2 separate regions of the Homo sapiens genome follow, and region 2 is linked to region 1. The links come from fine-mapping of genetic effects on gene expression. A gene starts in region 1. The other region holds a variant in brackets. All regions are shown on one strand. Distances are from middle to middle.

What was found. PIP is the estimated chance that this variant, and not a neighbour inherited with it, causes the effect.
Region 2: its variant is fine-mapped to the expression of ADAM29 in tibial artery (GTEx, PIP above 0.99).

The regions. Positions count from the first base shown.
Region 1 is chr4:174,913,864-174,923,764 of GRCh38, reverse strand. ADAM29 (ADAM metallopeptidase domain 29) reads right to left here and starts at 5,407. Exons shown (of 5, transcript NM_014269.4): 1 at 5,294-5,407; 2 at 2,973-3,078.
Region 2 is chr4:175,398,798-175,408,698 of GRCh38, reverse strand. No RefSeq gene overlaps it. Among named protein-coding and RNA genes, the nearest start is that of GPM6A-DT, 390 kb to the left of the region's middle. The variant C/G (reference allele first, on the strand shown) is at 5,434.

The DNA of each region.
Region 1 (9,901 bases):
TAGGGAGTATACACAAGAAATGGTTCTTCTTTTCCCTTTCTTATGTTGTTGCTGAATACTTCATGCACAAGGAAAAAAATCATATCCCAAAGAGAAAGTGATCGGCTTGTTCAGATTTTGTTGTTGTTCTTCCCTGTTATCTGATTAATGAAAGGAAGTATGTGTGGTGGAAAATATTTTTTAAAGATATATATGTGTGTGTGTATATATATATATATATATATATATATATATATATACATATAATGCACAGTATATAGGGGATGATGCACAGGTAGGAGCTGGCAGTGCAGAGAGGAGACATTGATCTGAAGAAACAGCTCCTAACAGCTTATGGGGCACTCACCCTGTGCTCAAGCAATCATTGTCAATGACAAAGTGGCCATTTAAGTTATAATTGTATTAAATTAGGCCAAGCACGGTGGCTCATGACTGTAATCCCAGCACTTTGGGAGTCCGAGGTGGGTGGATCAGGATGTCAGGAGTTGGAGATCAGCCTGGCCAACATGGTGAAATCCCGTCTATACTAAAAATACAAAAATTAGCCAGGTGTGGTGGCGCAGACCTGTAATCCCAGTTACAAGGGGAGGCTGAGCCAGGAGAATCACCTGAACTCGGGAAGTGGAGGTTGCAGTGAGCCGAGATCGCACCACTGCACTCCAGCCTAGGCAACAGAGTGAGACTGCATCTCAAAAAAATAATAATAATTAATTAATGCTAATAATTTGTATGTTTTATTTGGAGAGCTTGAGTAACTTTAACTCCTAACTAAGCATATGTGTTTCCTTGGTTTTGGTTTCGTGTCTTTTTTCTTTTGGGTTGATGTGTAACATGTTTGAGTATAGGAAATAGTGGGTTATTCTTTTGGCTTTGCTATTCACGGTGAATTATAAAATATAAATTTTTGTGAGATTTCGAAGATTATATTTCAAAGATTATATTAAAAGATAACATTGCTTACAGATTTAAAAGATGTGATTATCACAAGAATGTGATAGTGGGGGGATAAAATAACTAACAGAATAAATATTTTTTAGGATAAAAATATTTATTTTATAAAAATAAAATAAAAATGGTTTCAAATATTTCAAATGGTAACTTTCTCTACCCACTGTCACAGCCGTGAGGGTCTCTCTCTTACCTCTTCACAATGATAAGTTGGTGGGGTTCCTAGAAGTAAAAACCCACCAAAGTATGGAAGCCTCCATAAATGGTACCTCTGAGTTTCTTATGCTCGTGCTGATTGAAACTCAGCCTCATCAAAAAGCTTCAGCAGTTCAGAAGAATTACCTTATAAATGTTACTACCAGTTTATGGCTTTGGAAACTTCTGCTCCAAATAAGCAGACTCCAGTTATGACCCTCTGTATTTGCCTGTCTCCAGATTTCAGGATGATGATTTGCTCTATGACTTCAGTTCTCTAATGGGTCCAATAAAATTCATTGATTTCAGTTTGCTCAGCTTTTTTCTCTTGTTGAAAGAGTGTATGTAACATTCAAGTTGATAAGCTATTGTCATCAACACAGTTTTTAAAAATTGTATTTTGTTTACAACTTGTTTATTAAGACTTTATAGTGACAGTTACATTATGCTTATTAATGTTCCTGGTGACAGACCTTTATTTGAATTTTATATATGATTTAAACTTGTCTTCATATTGGAAATATTTAAGGAATTTTGATACTTATATTCACTTCCATCAAACCAAGATCCCAAAGGTTAAAAAGAATCATTAACTAATTTAGTAGTTGGAGACTCAATAGAGTGATTTCAATTGAGTTTGAACTTTAAATTAATTGTTATAATACCTGATAAGTCTGGCTTCCTAAAGTATCATTTCTTTATCTTATCATTCCACATTTTGAACTACATACGAAAATAAAAGTCATTTGAAAATTTACCTATAGCTTGGAAGAAATTTTGAAATTTAACCACACATGTATGTGTGTATACATGTGCACACACACACAACTTATTCCCACAGGTATTTCCTGTAGCAGTTAATAATACACCTTCCATATATTACATATTTAGTAAAGCTTTTAAAAATGATTCAATTTATGTAAAACATACAAAGAAAGCATATTAATCTTTTACTGAGACGGGAAACTGATGGATCAAAATATATGTGAGTTGACATTGTTAGCCACTATCCTTAAGGTGGATATCAGTTTAACATGGTAACATATTCCTGTTCACTTTTTGGATAATAGGCAGTAGGCTTTTGTGCGTCCATCTGGAAATTGGTTGTTGGGGACCATTCAATGATCTGGTTTTGGCCAAAATGCCCATATGGGTTTGTCAGATAATATTATAATTCTTTGGCACCATGCATAAAGAGTAGTCCAGCAACAGGAAATGAAATTCATTTTCTCACTGATGTTGGTTGAGTACAGAGGCCAGTTTGTCCTACATGTGTGCGTAATGTCACATGCCTTTTTAAGAAGACTTCACTTGGGGCCACCAGAAGCCACTCTAAGTGGGCCAGAGGTGATTTTCATATTATAGCTTTTATTTCTCTTGTTGAAAAATTGTATGTAACATTTGAGTTGATTGACTGTTTTCATAAATACAGGTTTTTAAAAACGTGTTTGTTTACATCTTGTTTATAAATTTTGTTTATACTCATCTTGTTTATACTTTCTGGTGACAATTCCATTGTGCTTATTATTCTAGTTTTCTTACTGTAGAACCAAAGACTGGCATAGTATAATATTCTCTTTGAACTTCTTCAAAGATGTAGTCTCTGAGTGTTGTGGGTTAGAGATCTTGGTGAGAACTACCCATTGGTGTAATGATCAATCGACATTTTCTTTTGCTTTGATGATGTCCCTTTTTGAACTGATATCCACCTTGATAATAGTCAACTTCTTAGGAACCATTAGAGTTATTAAAATACTTTTAATCTGCTAACCATTCTAAATTATGGATAATGTAAGATAATTACATTATCTTACTGCAAAGATACTTACATTAAGCATCTTTATTTTCTCTGAAGCTTTTCGAAATCATGAACCATCCCAAAACATTTCTATTATTAGTGTATATAAACCTTCTTTCCTTTATTCATCCAGCAAGCTATGGGAATGGAAACAATTATGTTATCTAAGAATATTTTCATTTCTGGAAAGGGGTCAAAATGGTGAGTTAAAATTTGTTCCAGTGTTTTCTGCCTGATATTTTCTGGTTTCATTCTTAGGATATGACCTACAAACAAATCAAGATTAAATCTGGATTTCTGGGCATGCTTTAATTAATTTATTAGCGTGTTTTAATAAATTTACTAGATATTCAGGAAGCAGTGGTTAGGGGGCCATGAGCTTCCCTCTTCTAATGGAAGAAGATTAATAGTATTTAAAGTATTACAGTGATGAACAGAAACATGGAAAGAAGAAAGTAATTCAATTTTAGAAAGTAAGCCTACTTTCTTAGGAAATATTGCATACTTTTAATGGGCAGCAAAGACTGGCAAAATAGGGAACCATTAAGTTTAAGGTAGAAAGTAAAACTGTTAGTAGAAGCCTCCATCAAGTTTCAACTTCTGCTTTCAGCTTAGGAAAGTAGGATTTTGACATTGGGTTAGTAGAAAAATAGTTGCATGATACTGGTTTGTTGAGATGGAAGAGATATTTGACTTGTTCAGATCTTTTATGTATGAATAGGTAACATGATTCATGATGACGCAGGCTCATAATGAGAGGTTGTTGAAGGGCTAATTTTTAAAGCATGAAATGCCTATATATGCATAAATTCTCAGATAAGAGATTTGATTAACAAAGATTTGGTTAAGTGATACAGTATTGTGTCAATTTCTGAAAGTCAACGTGGCAGACAGAATAAGAAAATGACTCCTAAAATGCCCAGATGTGCATGTTCTTGTATAACCCTCTCCCTTGAATATAAGTAGGATCTTTGAATATGATAAATGTCACTTGAGTGATTGGATTATGTAACACAGAAAAGGTGAAAGGGTTTTGCCGCTGTAACTGAGATCTCTAATTAGTTGACTTTGACTCAAAAGGGACATTATTCTGGATGGGCACTGACTTAATCAGGTGAAAGCCATAAAAGCAAAAGAATCTCTAGCTAGCCTTAAAGAGAAACAGCTGTATTGAAAGCTGCCAGTAAAGAGGGGGAGCCTCTAAAAGGAGAGGACCTTGATGCTACAACCACAAGTAACTAAATTCTACCAACATTAATGAGCTTGGAAGAGAACTTTGAGCTCCAGAAGAGAACTGCAACGTGGCTAATGCCTTGATTTCGGCTTGTGAGACCCTGAACAAAGGACCTAGTTAAGCCTTACCCAAACTCCTCATCCACAGAAACTGTGGTGTGATAAATGTGTGTTGCTTTTTGCGCCTAACTCTGTGCTAATTTAATATCTAGCCACAGAAAATGAATACATTTGGAAACCCATTGTTGGCTATAGTGAATGAGACCCAAAGAATCATCTCTAAAATCTCCTGGTTACTAACTAGAAAAATTCTGAATGGTTATGATCTTTCAGAAAAGAGAAATTTACCTCCTTGGGATATATTATGCTTCAGATGATACACTTTACTTTGAGAAAAAATTTTAGTCCCCATCAGAAAGTTTATAGACTATTAGAGATAAAACAAGTAATTAGATGGATGGAGTCAGTCCTAGAGCTCAGCTAAACTTTAGAATGCCACAAAGTATGGTAGAATATAGGGAAATGTAAGTTCCTTGAGGCCCTGGTTAAAGACTTTTAAAAATTAAGACAATATCTCAATAAGCCCTAAGTCATAATTACCAGTGTACGTTATCGAATTTCTCAGAAGAAAGCAAACATATGACTCTGAATTAAACAGATTCTAAAGGAACAGAAAACAGATTTACAGCTGTAAAATATGCAATTTCATTATGCACCAAAGACAAAATAATATTTGAATTTGTTACTACAGAGAAGTGGGAGATCATTATTCAATTTATACTCCTGAGATTCTGAACAAATTTATATCACTGCCCTGTGTTTTTTTTTCTTTTTCTTTTTTTTAAATTTAGAGAAGTACTACAAGGAATAGTACAAAGTTTCATGATTCATTTCTCAATTAGGTTTTCATCTATTGATTTTAGTGCTTTGTTAGGCCTTGGTTTTAGAGGGTATGGGGCAAGTTTGGGCAGATATTTGGAGGGTTTAGTCTGAAACTGATAGGTTCAGCCTAAACAGTATTACAAAATCAGTTTAATCTATGCCCAGAAGTATGACTACTTCTTTGACCTTCAATTTGTGTAAAGAGTACAGGTAAGGCAAGGTTTAAATAGCTATAACCTGCTTGTGATCGAGGGCGTCCTCAGGAAATGTGCAGGAACAGGCCATCAGGAGAGCTTTTATTTTATAGGAGATACTCACACCACCCCATTTGGTTAGTGGATGTGATGTCACAAAGGAGGAAAGAATGTTTCTCAATTAAGAGTCTGAGGGCGACAGTTATGCACTGGGGCATGCAAAGTGTTTGAGGTTTATTAGCGGTACCCGGCACCTGATAGTTATTCAGTCCCAGGGAGAAGTTAGGTAACAATGTCAAGATGTATGACAGATGTCACAGGGCCTATCAATCAAAATGTTGAGGTTTTTTTCTTTAATAATTAGAGAACTTTGCCTTTATGCAATGAAGGGACATTGAGCGATTTATTCCCCCTTGCAGAAACTTCAATAATTATCCCATTTGTATTTGTTCCCTTTTGTTTCCTAGCTGTAAGAGTGAAATTATTTTTCCTATACTCTTTCAGTTTAAAGTGTACAAAACCGTCTTTTTCAAGAGTACTCTAGGGTTTAACAACTATAGTGTTTTTACTTGAATCCCAAAGTAAACAGCATCTTTTTGAAATTCTCAACGTATAGACCATTGTTGCAGCTGTTTTTTTCATTTATTTTTAATTTTTTAATGATTAAATCCTTAAAGAAGAGTTGCAAAGCTTGTAGAGTTTTCATATATGCTTCATCTAGCTTCCCCTAATGTTAACATCTTGAATAACCATGATACATTTATTAAAAGTAAAAAATTACCATTGGTATAATACTATTAACTAAGTTACAGACTTCATTAGGATTTGCCTGTATTTTCCCCTAATTTTTTTTTCATTTCCAGGATCCAGTCCAGGTTACCACATTACTAAGTCATCGTATCCCCTTAGTTTCCTCCAGTTTGTGACAGTTTGTCAGTTTTTCCTTGTTGTTCATTACCAATATACTTTGGAAGGTATTTTGTAGAATGGCCCTTGATATGGGTTTCTGTGGTTCTCACAGTGCAACTGAGGTATGGATTTTGTGAAGAATATCATTTAAAGCCTTTTTCTAATATGTCAGGGAAACTTGATATCAACATGATTTGTTATTGGAGATGGCTTACTTTGACACCATGGCTAAGTTAGCGACTGATAGATTTCTCCACTGGAAAGCTGCCTTTTGTCTCTTTTCCTGCTCTATTCATTAGAAGCTTCTTAACAAATCTAACCCACCCTCAAGCTCCACCATGGAGAGAGGAGTATCAGAGAATTTACAGGCATATGTTTCAACTACCATAGTACTTAATAAATATTTTGGGGAGATATTTTCAGACCTGTTGACTTGTTATTTCTGCCATTCTTCTACATTCACCATTTGTAAAGAAGCTTTTCCCTTTCTTCATCAATTAATTTATTTGATTATTTATAACAGTATGGGCACGTGTTTATTTGATCTAATGGATGTAATTCAATAATGACATTGTTTATTTTGTTACTCAAGTTGTTCTAGGGTTGTCTTGGGAGATTTTTTGAGGTTTCAGGATAACTCTTGGATCACTTTGACATGCCCTATGTATTTATCTGTATGTTTATGTATTTATCAGCCCTTGCTTGCTTTCTAGCACCAGAGGATGCTCCAGAATCATTTGTATTTTTCCTGCCCAAGCCCCATATTTTCTCCAAATATGACCAAAGAAATCAGTCATTTCTCTAAATATGATTGCAGAATCATATTTAGAATCCATGATATAAACAACAGTGGTGCTCATTGCTATAGAACTATCATTGCTTGTTTACTTTTTCTGGAAAGAGAGAGAAAGTTATATGTACATATGCACACGTTTATATGTATTTCTGTATTTACTTATATTTATGCATATTAAAAGAAACAAGAACTCAATCTTTTATTTCCAATTGTAACTCATGGCCACAGTGGTCATTCTAGCCTCTCCCACTTGCTCATTTGTAATTTCCTTTTTCGATATAAAGAATTTGGTTCCCATTCCATTCCATGTAGTGAACTGTCTACATTTTGTTTACTTACTTGTACAACTTTAGGAGTTGTAGTTCCAGAATGGCTAAATTTACCCTGTGAGATCAAAATTACCAGCTAAAATAAAGTGCTTATGTAAAGTTCTTTCTGCCTTTAATTTTATGGTCTAGTCAAAACATTGTTCCCAACGTTATTGTGAGCTCTTTCTTGTTTCTCTCACACACTTCAGTGAGATTAAACCCTGTACTTAGATTTATTTGGCACAGTCTTCATTTCATCCTTGGATTTCCAAAAGCTTAGTTTTTATTTTAATATGAGTACATTTAATGCACTATTTTGTATGGTTTCTGAAATTTTGAAAAATGCGTAGTGTCATTTGTACATCACTGCAGAACCATATAAAACAGTTGCCTCATTCTAAATTTCCATTGTGTGCTCTCCAGTGATCAAAACTAAATGTCCTGATCAACAACTGATTTTTTTTTCTCATTTAGCAAAATGTCATGTAAATGAAATTATACAGTATACAGCCCTTTGGGTCTTGCTGCTTTCATTTGGCAAAATGAAATCAAGATTTCTTCATATTGTTGTATGAATCAACAGTTTCTTTTTAGTGCTGAGTAATGTTTCTTTGTATAGGTACTTTGCAGCATGTTAATCTACTCATATGTTAAAGGGAATCCTGGTTATTTTTGCTTTGTGGTGATTATAAAGCTTTTAGAAAAATTTGCATACAGGTTTCAGGTTTTGTGCACACAGACTTTTACTAATTTACCTAGGTTAAAAACTAAACAATGGGGCCGGGCGCGGTGGCTCACACTTGTAATCCCAGCAATTTGGGAGGCCGAGGCAGGCAGATCACAAGGTCAGGAGATCGAGACCATCCTGGCTAACACGGTGAAACCCCGTCTCTACTAAAAATACAAAAAAGTAGCCGGGCGTGGTGGTGGGCGCCTGTAGTCCCAGCTACTCTGGAGGCTGAGGCAGGAGAATGGCGTGAACCCGGGAGGCGGAGCTTGCAGTGAGCCGAGATCGCACCACTGCACTCCAGCCTGGGCAACAGTGTGAGACTCCGTCTCAAAAACAAAAAACAAAAAACAAAAAGAAAAACCAAACATGGTATTGTTGGTTCACACGGTGAATATATATTTAACGTCGTAAGAAACTGTCAGTTTCCAAAGTGGCTGTACATACCATTTTGCAGTCCCAACAGCAATGAAGGAGAGTTTCTGTTTCCTGCATCCTCACAAGCATTTGCTATTATCAATTTTTGTATGTTTGTTTTGTTTTGTTTTCGCCATTCTGATATGTGTGTAGAGGTAACTCAATATGGTTTTGATTGTCATCTGTTTATTTTCTTTCTCAAAATGTTTGAGACCTTTCCCATCTTAGTTAGGTAGTTTGTTTTCTTGTGATTGTTAAATGTTCTCTACATTTCTAGATACAAGTTCTTTATCTCTAATGTAATTTGCAAATATTTTCTACCAGTCTGTTGTTTGTATTTTCACTTTCATTAGAATATATTTTGAAGAGCAAAATGTTTTAATTTTGATAAACTCTATTTATCAAACATAAATAGAAAAACTGTATTTATAAAACATATGGCTCATGCTTTTGCACTATACCTAAGAATTCATTGCTAAGGTCATGCAATCCTCCTTCTCCTAGAACTTTTATAGTTTATGTTTCTATTTGGGTCTATAATCCATTGTGAGTTTATTTTTATATTAGGCATGAAGTGTCTGCCGAGGTGTCATTTATTTATTTTGCATATGGAAGTTCAATTGCTTCAGTACCATTTGCTAAAAAGACTATGCCTTTTCTATTTCTATATTTGTGAAAAATCAGTTGGCTACATTTTGTGGGTCTATTTCTAAGATATTTATTCTGCTCCATTGATTTATGACTTGATCCTTTCATTAATATTGTAGTCTTGAATGCTGTAGCTTTATAACAGTACTATAATGTAGTAGTGTCAGATCCCCCTCACAATTTTTTTCTTTATAAAAATTGTTTGGTTAATCTGGTTCCTTTGCCTTTCCGTATACATTTTGAATCTGCTTGTCAATATTTACAGAAGTTAGTTGGGATTTTTGTTGGGATAAAAATCAGTTTGGTAAGAATTGACATCTCAAATATTAAGTGTTTCAAATACTTAACCCTGTGTAGCTTTCCATTTATTTAGATTGTCTTTTATTTTTTCCATCAGATTTATTTCCTTTTCAGCATACAGATTCTCCACACATTCTGTTATATTTAGTTACACCAAAGCATTTCATTTTAAGTACTATTATAAATTATATAACCCCCATACCAGCTACCTTAAGATTCTCTCTCTCTCTCTCTCTCTCGTGTGTGTGTGTGTGTGTGTGTGTGTGTGTGTGTGTGTGTGTTACTTTGGTTGCTCACTTGCTTGGCTTTCAACAGTTTGAATATGATATATGTAGATGTGTCTTTTTGGAATTTGTCCTGCTTGTTGTTCTCTCAGCTCTTTGGATCTGTGGATTGGTGTCTGTCACTAATTTCAGAAAATTCTTAGGCACATTTTTAAAAAATTTCTTCTGCTCATTATTTCTTCTCCCTTTGATATTCTAATTACACATGTGTTAGACCAGATGATATTGCCTCATAGCTTTTTGTTACTCTGCTCTCTTTTTT
Region 2 (9,901 bases), 480 kb before region 1:
ACCCAGAAGCATGCTAGAAACTGCTTATAAGAAAATAGTAATCTGTGAAGGATTACATATCTTTACTCCAAAATCACAAATGTCACTGTTGTAATTCAATTATAGCTGTCTTTAAAAATCCACTAAGAGTATATTTAACTTTTACAACATTTCATCATAATGCCTTCATAGAACTCAAATGGCAGAGTAGCTTTAACAGCAGCCTGAACCTGATGCAGGGCCTCCTCGAAGTCTAGGTTTCATACAAATCTAGCAGCAGTTCTAACCACTGAGTAAATAGGTGGAAGTAGCACCCCAAATTGGGATATGTATTGCCTCTAAAACCACAGTGCTCAGTAGGCATTGTGTCTCTTCTTTATGACAGGAGAGAACAGATACACTTGTTTTTTACCTTGAAAGGATGTCAGCATTCCCCAGATCAGTCAGATCTTAGAATTATCATTGAGAAATCTTTGCACATCTTTGAAATTGTCTGTTATTTTTTTCCCCACCCTCTGGCATGCATGTATCATATTGCAGTGCTTAGGATTATTACCGCTTCCTGTAATTATTATGATGTCATTGACGTGGGCTAATTTGATGTTCTGTGAAATGAAGAGATGATCAAAGTCCTTGCAGATTAGACTATGACTGAGAGTTGGAGAGTGATATAATCCTGTGGTGAGAAAGTATACTGTCATTACTAAGATTCATAGGGAAAAGTATTTAACAGATTGATGGCTGCTTTTCAAATACCAAGGGATATGTTGATTTTCTCCAGTAACTAAACCAACCCTAAATCTAAAGCAATACTGCAATTAGAATCTCCACTTGATAAAATTTATAATAATTCTTTCTCTTTTCCCAAGACCCATCTGTGTTTTGTTTCAGCCAAAAAGGCAAATTTTATAGAAGAAACGATTAGAATCACTTAACTGGATGTTAGCACTAACCTCTGCAATCCTGCCAGGAAAACACAGTATTGTCTTGCCTTTAGTATTTTAATAGGTAGAAGCAATTTTTCTTTCTTTCACTTTGTCTTTCCTAGTATATTAAAGTAGCCCATGGGTCTATATTAGTGTGGAAACTAGTGTGGGCTTATGCCGGTTGCTTTGTATGTCTATTCCAAATATACATCCTAAAATTTGGAAAATCATCATGGGTAGATGCAGACACACAGTGCTCACTGTGAGATGGACATAAAACACAACTCTATTAATCTTGGCAGGTGAATAATGCTAGTGTTGGGTCTTCAGAAAATAGTGCGCTCCAAACAACGAGTAATCCCCAAATCCTAACTACTTCCCCTAATGCACAGTCATCTGGGAAAATGACTAGGGGTTCCTTGGGGAAGGCTGGGGTAAGATGTATAGTATAAATGTTAACAGTGTAGCAGAGTCCTTTCATTTTTGTGTTCCACTCACAATGTGTTTTTCAAAGCATCAATGCAGAGAATGTCTTCTGGACTCTCACAATGGAGACATAGTTATGGGCAGGAGACCAGCTATCATGTAATAAATCCACTCCAACTTTCTAATCTCTGTAAGCATTTGGATAACTTTTTCTATAACAAATGAAGAAATTTGGCACTTAAGTTTGTTCAGTATAAACTACCTATGTTTAGTTCCAAATTTCAATCAGCCACCCAAGCAGAGTAACTCCTGGCCTCATGAGCTAACTCATTTATCCAGGATGTCTGCATAGTGCAACTGTATCAATATATTTGACCCGATGGAAAATTTTTACCCAGATCCCAAACACATAGCATTCAAGTTTTGTGGGCAACTTTACATCTACTTTTATTGTGGATGTTATATATGGATTTTTGTGATTGTTGTTTGATTTGACTTTTTATAGAGAGATATGAGAAGCCTTAAACATTTTATGCCACTGCTGCTGTAAATTTCCCAACTTATTTTTCAAACAAGTTATTTATTCAAAGGTAACTGATTTTCTGCTTTTCTTACTAAATACAAAATTGTGCCTTTTGAATAATATTCTATTTAATATTGTATATATGTACAGATAATACATAATGTTGACTAAAATGAGCTTGATTTTGCAACTTGTGTTAGTAATTTCAAAAGAACAAGAACATAAATTGAAAAAAAGAGATACTTGTTTACTTATTCATACTTTATATATTTTAGTGTAGATGTGCACTAAAATTAGTGCAAATCTAAATGTCAACAATGCATATAATACTATAGCAAGAAAAACAGAAATCCCGCACAAGATCAACTCTAAGAAGTAAATTAACACTGTAGTCATGGAAACAGGTGTTCTCTTTTTTCTTTTTAACTAAATATGCACATTTGACTCCAACAAGGAGACTGGGGCTTCTGCATGTTGTATCTACAGTAAGAACTTTTCAAAAAATGACACTTGTTTATTAGAATTATTTAGGGACTATGTTGGATCACAAAGACTACCTGAGAAGAAGAACCCTCTCTGGCAATTATCCTTTGGGGTCAGCGCCTCTGAGTTGCTTCTGCATTCATAGCCTCTTCCCTTCCTGTTCTGACTTAACCAGTTCCTTCACAGCTTCAGACTTTATTCTCAGTGTCTCTCATAAAAACAGCAGCCTTTTGTGAACTGGTGGTGAGGAGAGGAAGTATGTGGGAAGAGTTTTTATAAAGGATTTATGCTCCCTTAATTTGCTGTTGAGTTCAGAGCTACCTGCTCATTAAAAATCTCCCTCGTACTCCTAGCCCCATCCACATTTAGCCTGCCAAAACAATCAATTGAATATTTAACTAGCATGAAAAATAATTTTCCTTTTAGTATAGTTATTTCATTTATGCTACCAATGTAAAGCACATAAGGTGATCAAATAAAAATCAAAGTTGCCACATTTAGTTTTGTTTCAGTTTAAGTCAAGGGAAAGTGTATATAGTAAATATTTTATTTTTAATTTCATTAATCTCTAAAGTAATTGAATAGCCTTTTCTTTCATGATCTCTCTGTCTTCTCTCTCTCTGTCTCTGTGCGTGTGTGTGTGTGTGTGTGTGTGTCTATTTTAAGAGATTTTCTGCAATAAGAAGGCGCTTTTAATCTCGGGTGACATTCTCTAGTTCACTGAAATTATTTTATTTATCCAGAGACTTTGGGAAACTCTTTTTTCATAGTAATGTGTGTAATAATTTCATACAGAGCTTATTTATTTTTTCCAAATTTACTGCTCTTTATGATATAGACTAATTTGGTTTTCATTTTTTTTGCTTAGTCTTATATTTTTCATTATTTCAGCCTCTGAAGAATAATGTTTTTATTAACACAGTTTCATCTGGAACTGTACTTCCCAAAACAGACAAAAAACAGAAACTCCTATTTCTGTTGAAATTCTTCTGTCCTTAAAGGTCAGCTCAATTGTGTTTTCTTTCTGCGGTTTTTCCCAATTTCTTGGGTCTGAAGTGTCTTTTCTATTTTGTATGATTCTTGAGCACATTGCAATACTAAAAACAAAACAAAACACTTTTTATGTAATGACATTTGACATCTAGGAAAAGTACATATGAAGGCTTTAAAATCACCAAATGTGTAAACACAATTTAGTTTACAATTTTTCCTTTCCCAGCTGTAAGAATTGAGCAAACTATAAATTTTCCTTTTTCTTGTTTGCACATAAAATAATGTAAGACTCATCCATAGTCTTGATCAATTTACCATTTAGCACTTTGTTTCAAACTTCTATTTCCTGGTAAAAGTTGTACGTGGGAGAATTTTTTTTAAATATCTACTTTTTCTTCACGTCTATCGCAGCACTAGAAGCTCCTCGTTGAAATGGGTATGCTGCAGAGATGATCAGGATTCACTCACCAGATGAATTGTTCCTACACACAAGTTAATGTAGAGCCAAAAAGTGGTTACACATTGTAAAGTTTTGAAGCTATTAAAATATTCAAAAGGAAAATTGGTGAAGACTAATGGTCTTTGAAGATTACTTAAATCCCTTAGTGGATTAAATGTATATTTAAAGAACAATCTTGTGTTGATGAACTTTTTTGTCTTTAAATGCAACACAGTGCCTAGGTCAGTGTTTACACAAAAGTGATTTTGCAAAAAAAGAAAAAAAAACAGGTGAATTGATTATAATACAGTACTTGCTGGGAAGATTAGGGGAAGATAGAGAGTGATAGTTAAGAGCCAGCACTTTGAAATCAGATATACTTTGGTTTTAGATGCCAGGATTTTTGTTCTCTTATTAGATTTCTCACCTTAGAATTTTTTTACTCTATTAATGTCTTGGACAATTTCATCCACAAAGTGGAGTAGAAAATAATGGTAGACACTTTTCAAAATTCTCCTTATGATTAAATGAGGTAATACAGTCATTGTAGGGGATTGATTCCAGGACACCCTGCATATGCCAAACTCTACAGATGCTCAAGTCCAGAAGCTGGCCATGTGAAACCTGGGGTTATTGTATTTTGGATCTGAGATTGATTTAATTGACAGCTGTGGAACCCAGGGGTACAGAACCCACAGAAAGGGAGGATTGACTACATTTAATTTTTTCTTCTTCTTTTTTTTTTTTTTTTCTGGAGACAGAGTCTTGCTGTATCACCCAGGCTGGAGTACAGTGGTGCAATTTCAGCTCACCACAAGCTCCACCTCCCAGGTTCAAGTGATTCTCATGCCTCAGCCTCCTGAGTAGCTGGGACTACAGGTGTGCACCACTACGCCCAGCTAATTTTTATACTTTTAGTAAAGATGGACTTTCTCCATGTTGGCTAGGCTGGTCTCAAACTCTTGACCTCAGGTGATCTGCCTGCCTTGGACTCCCAAAGTGCTGGTGTTACAGGCGTAAGTCCCCGTGCCCGGCTGACTATATTTAGTTTAATTTTACCAGTAAAAAGCATTCAATGGAGAATATTCATTTTGATCTATTTGAATTATATATTTTTTTGTTTTCTGTAAAAATGTGCATGGAATGAAATGCTAAGAAATCATTGAACTGGCAGAAAACTAAAAACAATGGCAAGTATTCTTTACTGAGATAAAACCTATTCTGAGGGGCTCAAACATAAGCATAATGCATGGATCCTTAGTAACTAAAAAGAGTACAACGTTAGGTTGTTGTAAAATACAAAAATGTTAATATAGAAATGCTTTGCACAGAGCAACTGCTTTCTCTTAGCTGAATATCAAGAAATGTTTTCTTTTTTGTGATACCAATAGCTCTTGAGATATAGGATGATGCTATTTCAAAAATTCTGGTGGCTGAGAAGGAATTACTGCTCTCTCTATTTTGTTGTATAGTAAGTCTTCACTAGGAAAGCTACTTGTGAATGCCAAATAGTTCTTGTGGAGAGATCTGTAATGATTCTTCTCTTGCTAGGATCCTGGACCTTCATAGCAATGCCACAGCAGACCACCTGCACTGAGATTTTGAGATTCCTTGCCTTCAGTTATATCAACAGAAAATTATATTTGTCTAACTCCATTGCTCTG[C/G]AATGTAACCTATTTTTATGCTCAAACTCATTGAAACATGAGCTCACAAAAAAGCAATAGCAAAACAAACACTATCATAGTTTCCCATCATAAATCTGTCTGGTTAAAAATAGAGAAGACACTTTTTTTCTTTCTTTTTTTTTTTTTTTTTGAGACAGAATCTCTCTCTGCTGCCCAGGCTGGAGTGCAGTGGGATGATCTCGGCTCATTGAAACCTCCACCTCCAGGTTCAAGCGATACTCCTGCCTCAGGCTCCCGAGTAGCTGGGACTACAAGTGTGCACCACGATGCCCAGGTAATGTTTATATTTTTTGTAGAGATGAGGTTTCATCATGTTGGCCAGGCTGGTCTCCAACTCCTGACCTTAGGTGATCCACCCGCCTTGACCTCCCAAAGTGCTGGAATTACAGGTATAAGCCACCATGCCTGGCTGGCAAGATACTTATTGAAACAATAACTCTTTATGTCATAGAACTGCTTCTATATTTGGACCCGTGTAATAAAAGTCTAGAATGTGTCTTGCTTTTTCCCACTAAAAATGTAAGAGGATGTGCCACAGACCCCTCCTTCCCCCGACTCCAGATTTTGGTCTAGCAATATGTTTAAGGGAGTTAAGTTCAGTGATATAACTTGTATACGTTTTGTGTCCAACAAGCTTTCATTTTAAATCATTTTCAGTACAGTTCATTGTTAGAAGCATTTCTATCATTCAAGTGAATTGCTGTACTTCTGGGATTAGAATGTAGAGAAAACAGCATTAACTTTAAGGACTCAAACTTCTCATGAACTACTTCTTTTTTCTTTTTTTTGAGAGGGTCTTGTAGTAGAGCACATCCAATATTTTGAAAGATTTATGTTTTGGTAGCTGATTTTATTGATCTACTGATCCATCCACCCATCCATCCATTAATCTACAGGCCCTGGACACATAAACATAGTTTCAAGGATGTAATAGTCTATGATAGAGATAGTCAATATAACAAGCAACGGCAGGCACAATCAAAACTCATTTGCAGGCATAAGTGCAGGAAAGCCTAGCGCAGAACAGGGAATCAGAGGAAGCTTTGGGAGGGCAATACATTTGTGTTATTACATGGAAGATGAAAACATTTGTCTCCTAGTGATCTAGCATGGGAATACAGCATGTCAGACTAGAAGAACCAGTATTAAAAAAGGATTCATTTTTTACTTTTTACCCAAAAGTATGTATATGTGTGTGTGTGTGTGTGTGTGTGTGTGTGTGTGTGTGTGTGTGTGTGTTGTGTACCCTCAAAATTTGAGACTGGTCTCAGTTAATTTAGAAAGTTTATTTTGCCAAGGTTGAGGATGCTCACAGGTGACACAGTCTCAGGAGGTCCTGACAACATGTGCCCAAAGTGGTTAGAGCACAGTTTGGTTTTATATATTTTAGGGAGACATGAGACATAAATCAACATATGTAACACGAATGTTGGTTCGGTCTAGAAAGGTGGGACAACTCAAAGCGGGGAGGGGACTTCCAGGTCATAGGTAGGTAAGAGACAAATGATTATATACATTTGAGTTTCTAATTAGCCTCTCCAAAGGAGGCAATCAGATATGCATTTATCTCAGTGAGCAGAGGGGTGACTTTGCGTAGAGTAGGAGGCAGGTTTGCCCTAAGCAGTTCCCAGCTTGACTTTTCCCTTTAGTTTAATGATTTTGGGGCCCCAAGATTTATTTTCCTTTCACAGTATGCATATATTATTAATATATATGTGTATTTTATGTCTGTGTGTGTGTGTGTGCATGTGTGTTTATATACATATATGGAGGGAGAGAGAGAGATTTGTTTTAAGGAACTAGCTAATGTGATTATGAAGGATGGCAAGTCCAAAATCTGTAGCATAAGCCCACAGACTGGAGAGTTGGCATGGAATGTTGATCCCAAAGACAGTCTGGAGGCAGAATTTCCTCTTCATAAGGGATCTCAGCCTGTTTTTTCTTAAGGCCTTTAAGGTAATCTGCTTCCCTCAACGTCTACTGATTTAAATATTAATCTCATCTAAACAATAACTTCATGTAACATCCAGACTGGTGTTTGACCAAATATCTGGGTAATGTGGCCTACTAAAGTTGACACAAAGTTGATAATCACATACCCCCTTACATTAATGAATGGAAACATCTCAAAGAAGGGAAACTGTGAGTATTCATAACATAGATAAAGGCCAAGTTACTGATGATCGAATAAGCCAAAGGCAATTCTCAGAAAATAATTTGTCAGATAACCAATTTGGTAAATTAGCAAAAACAACTATTAAACTATTTTTATAAGTTTACAACATATTATGTGGAATGATTTTTTACAATATTTGTAGACTTCTATGAAGCTTAAAGAATGGTTTTATTTTGTCTTTATAGTAGCATGTTAAGAAATATTATATTGGTTTTAAATAAAGGGGTAGAGAGTAGCTTAGTCTCATAAATATACTGAATATTCAAAGTAGTATGCTCCATAATTAATAAGCAACATTTCAGCAATTCATATAATATACGTATTTATCTTGATTCCTTTCAAATAATATATAGTTGCTGTTTTGTCAACAATTTTATTATTTCAAAATTATTTTCTTCAGTTTTTAAAGAGCGTACCAACCGTACCATACTGTGTTGATCACGATAGCTTCATAATATAGTTTAAAGCCATTTATTGATAACTTCTAGTTAATTGTACCTAAGATTTAATATGTGTTATAGTTTATCTTGTTCCTAAGTGCATGTCTTACACTAGCAGTATTTTAGAATGGTCAACTATTTGCTTCTGTTTTTCCTTCAGAAATTGTACTTGTGTTAACGTGTCACATTTGTTATGATAATCATATTATTTATTTAAAATCTCTTCCTTGCATCCTCACTTTTTTCCTTTTGTTTTGTGTGGCCCCATGCTTTCATGATAATTTTTTTCCACAAAATAAAATTGCTCCTTATTTTAAAATTTCATTACTGATTACAAAATATACTTCTCTGAATGGAAAACATGCTTTTAAAACTTTAAATTGTCTTAGAATCTCTCATTTAAAAAACCTGAACAATTAAAAATATGTGGGTATGTAGAAAGAGGTAACTAAATATAACAAAAACTTTCAAAAGTTAAGAAAACCAAACTGATACAAATATGAACAATTAAAATAGATTTTGAAAGTTGAAAAATGCAGTGAGTTCTGAGATTTAGCCTTTTAGTAAATTCTTTTTTTTTTTTTAGCAATTGTCTTTTGATAAGTGGATTTATAGTTTGTTTAGAACTTATCACGTACTTAAAGCACAAATATTGTTTATTTAATTTTGAAAATTCATGAAGTCTTCAAAAATCTTATAAAGACCTTTAGAATATCTAGATATCCAACTTTTCTGACACCATTTATTGAAGAGACTACCCTTTCCCAATTTTGTATTCCAGGCCTCCTTTTCAAAAACTAGTTGACTGTATGTGTGTGGGTTTATTTCAGGGGTCTCTATTCTGTTCTATTGATATATGTGTCTGCTTTTATGCCAGCACCATACTGTTTTGATTACTATAACTTTGTAATATACTTTAAAGCCAGGAAGTATGATGTCTTCAGCTTCATTCCTCTTTCTTAAAATTGCTTTGGCTATTGCAGGACTTTTGTGAATCCATATGAATTTTAGGATTGCTTTTCTATTTCTGTGAAAAATAACTTTGGAATTTTGATAGGCATTGATTGAATTTGTAAATTGCTTTGAATGGTATGAATATTTTAATGATATTAAGTCTTCCAATACATGAACACAGGATATCTTTCCAGTGATTTATGTCTTCCCCAATTTATTTCATCAGTGTTTTATAGTTTCAGTGTACAGCTCTTTGGACCCCTTGGCTAAATTTATTCCTAAGTACTGTATTTTTCTGATGCTATTGTAAATGGTGTTATTTTCTTAATACCTTTTTCAGATAATTTATTGTGAGTTTGTAAAAACACGACTGATTTTTCACATATGATTTTCTGTCCTGCAAATTTACCGAATATATTTATTAAATACGATAGTTTTTTAGTAGAGTCTTTAGAGTGTTCTATATATAAGATCATGTCATTTGCAAACAGAGACAACTTTCTTTTTAATTTGGATGTATTTTTTTTTGTCTAGTTGCTCTGGCTGTTAATTCCAGCATATGCTGAACAGAAGTGACAAGAGTGGGCATCTTTACCTTGTTTCTGATCTTTGAGGAAAAGTTTTCAGTTTCTAACCATTGAATATGACAGTAGCTTGGGCTTTATTATGTTGAGGTACACTCCTTATATACATAATTTGTTGAGCATTTTTATAATAAAAGAATGTTTAATTTTGTGAAATGCTTCTTCTACATCTATCAAGATGATCATATTCTTTTCATCTTTCATTCTACTAATTTGACATATCACAGTTACTGGTTTGCATTTGCTGAAAGATCCTTTCATCCCAGAGATTAATCACACTTAGTTATGGTGTG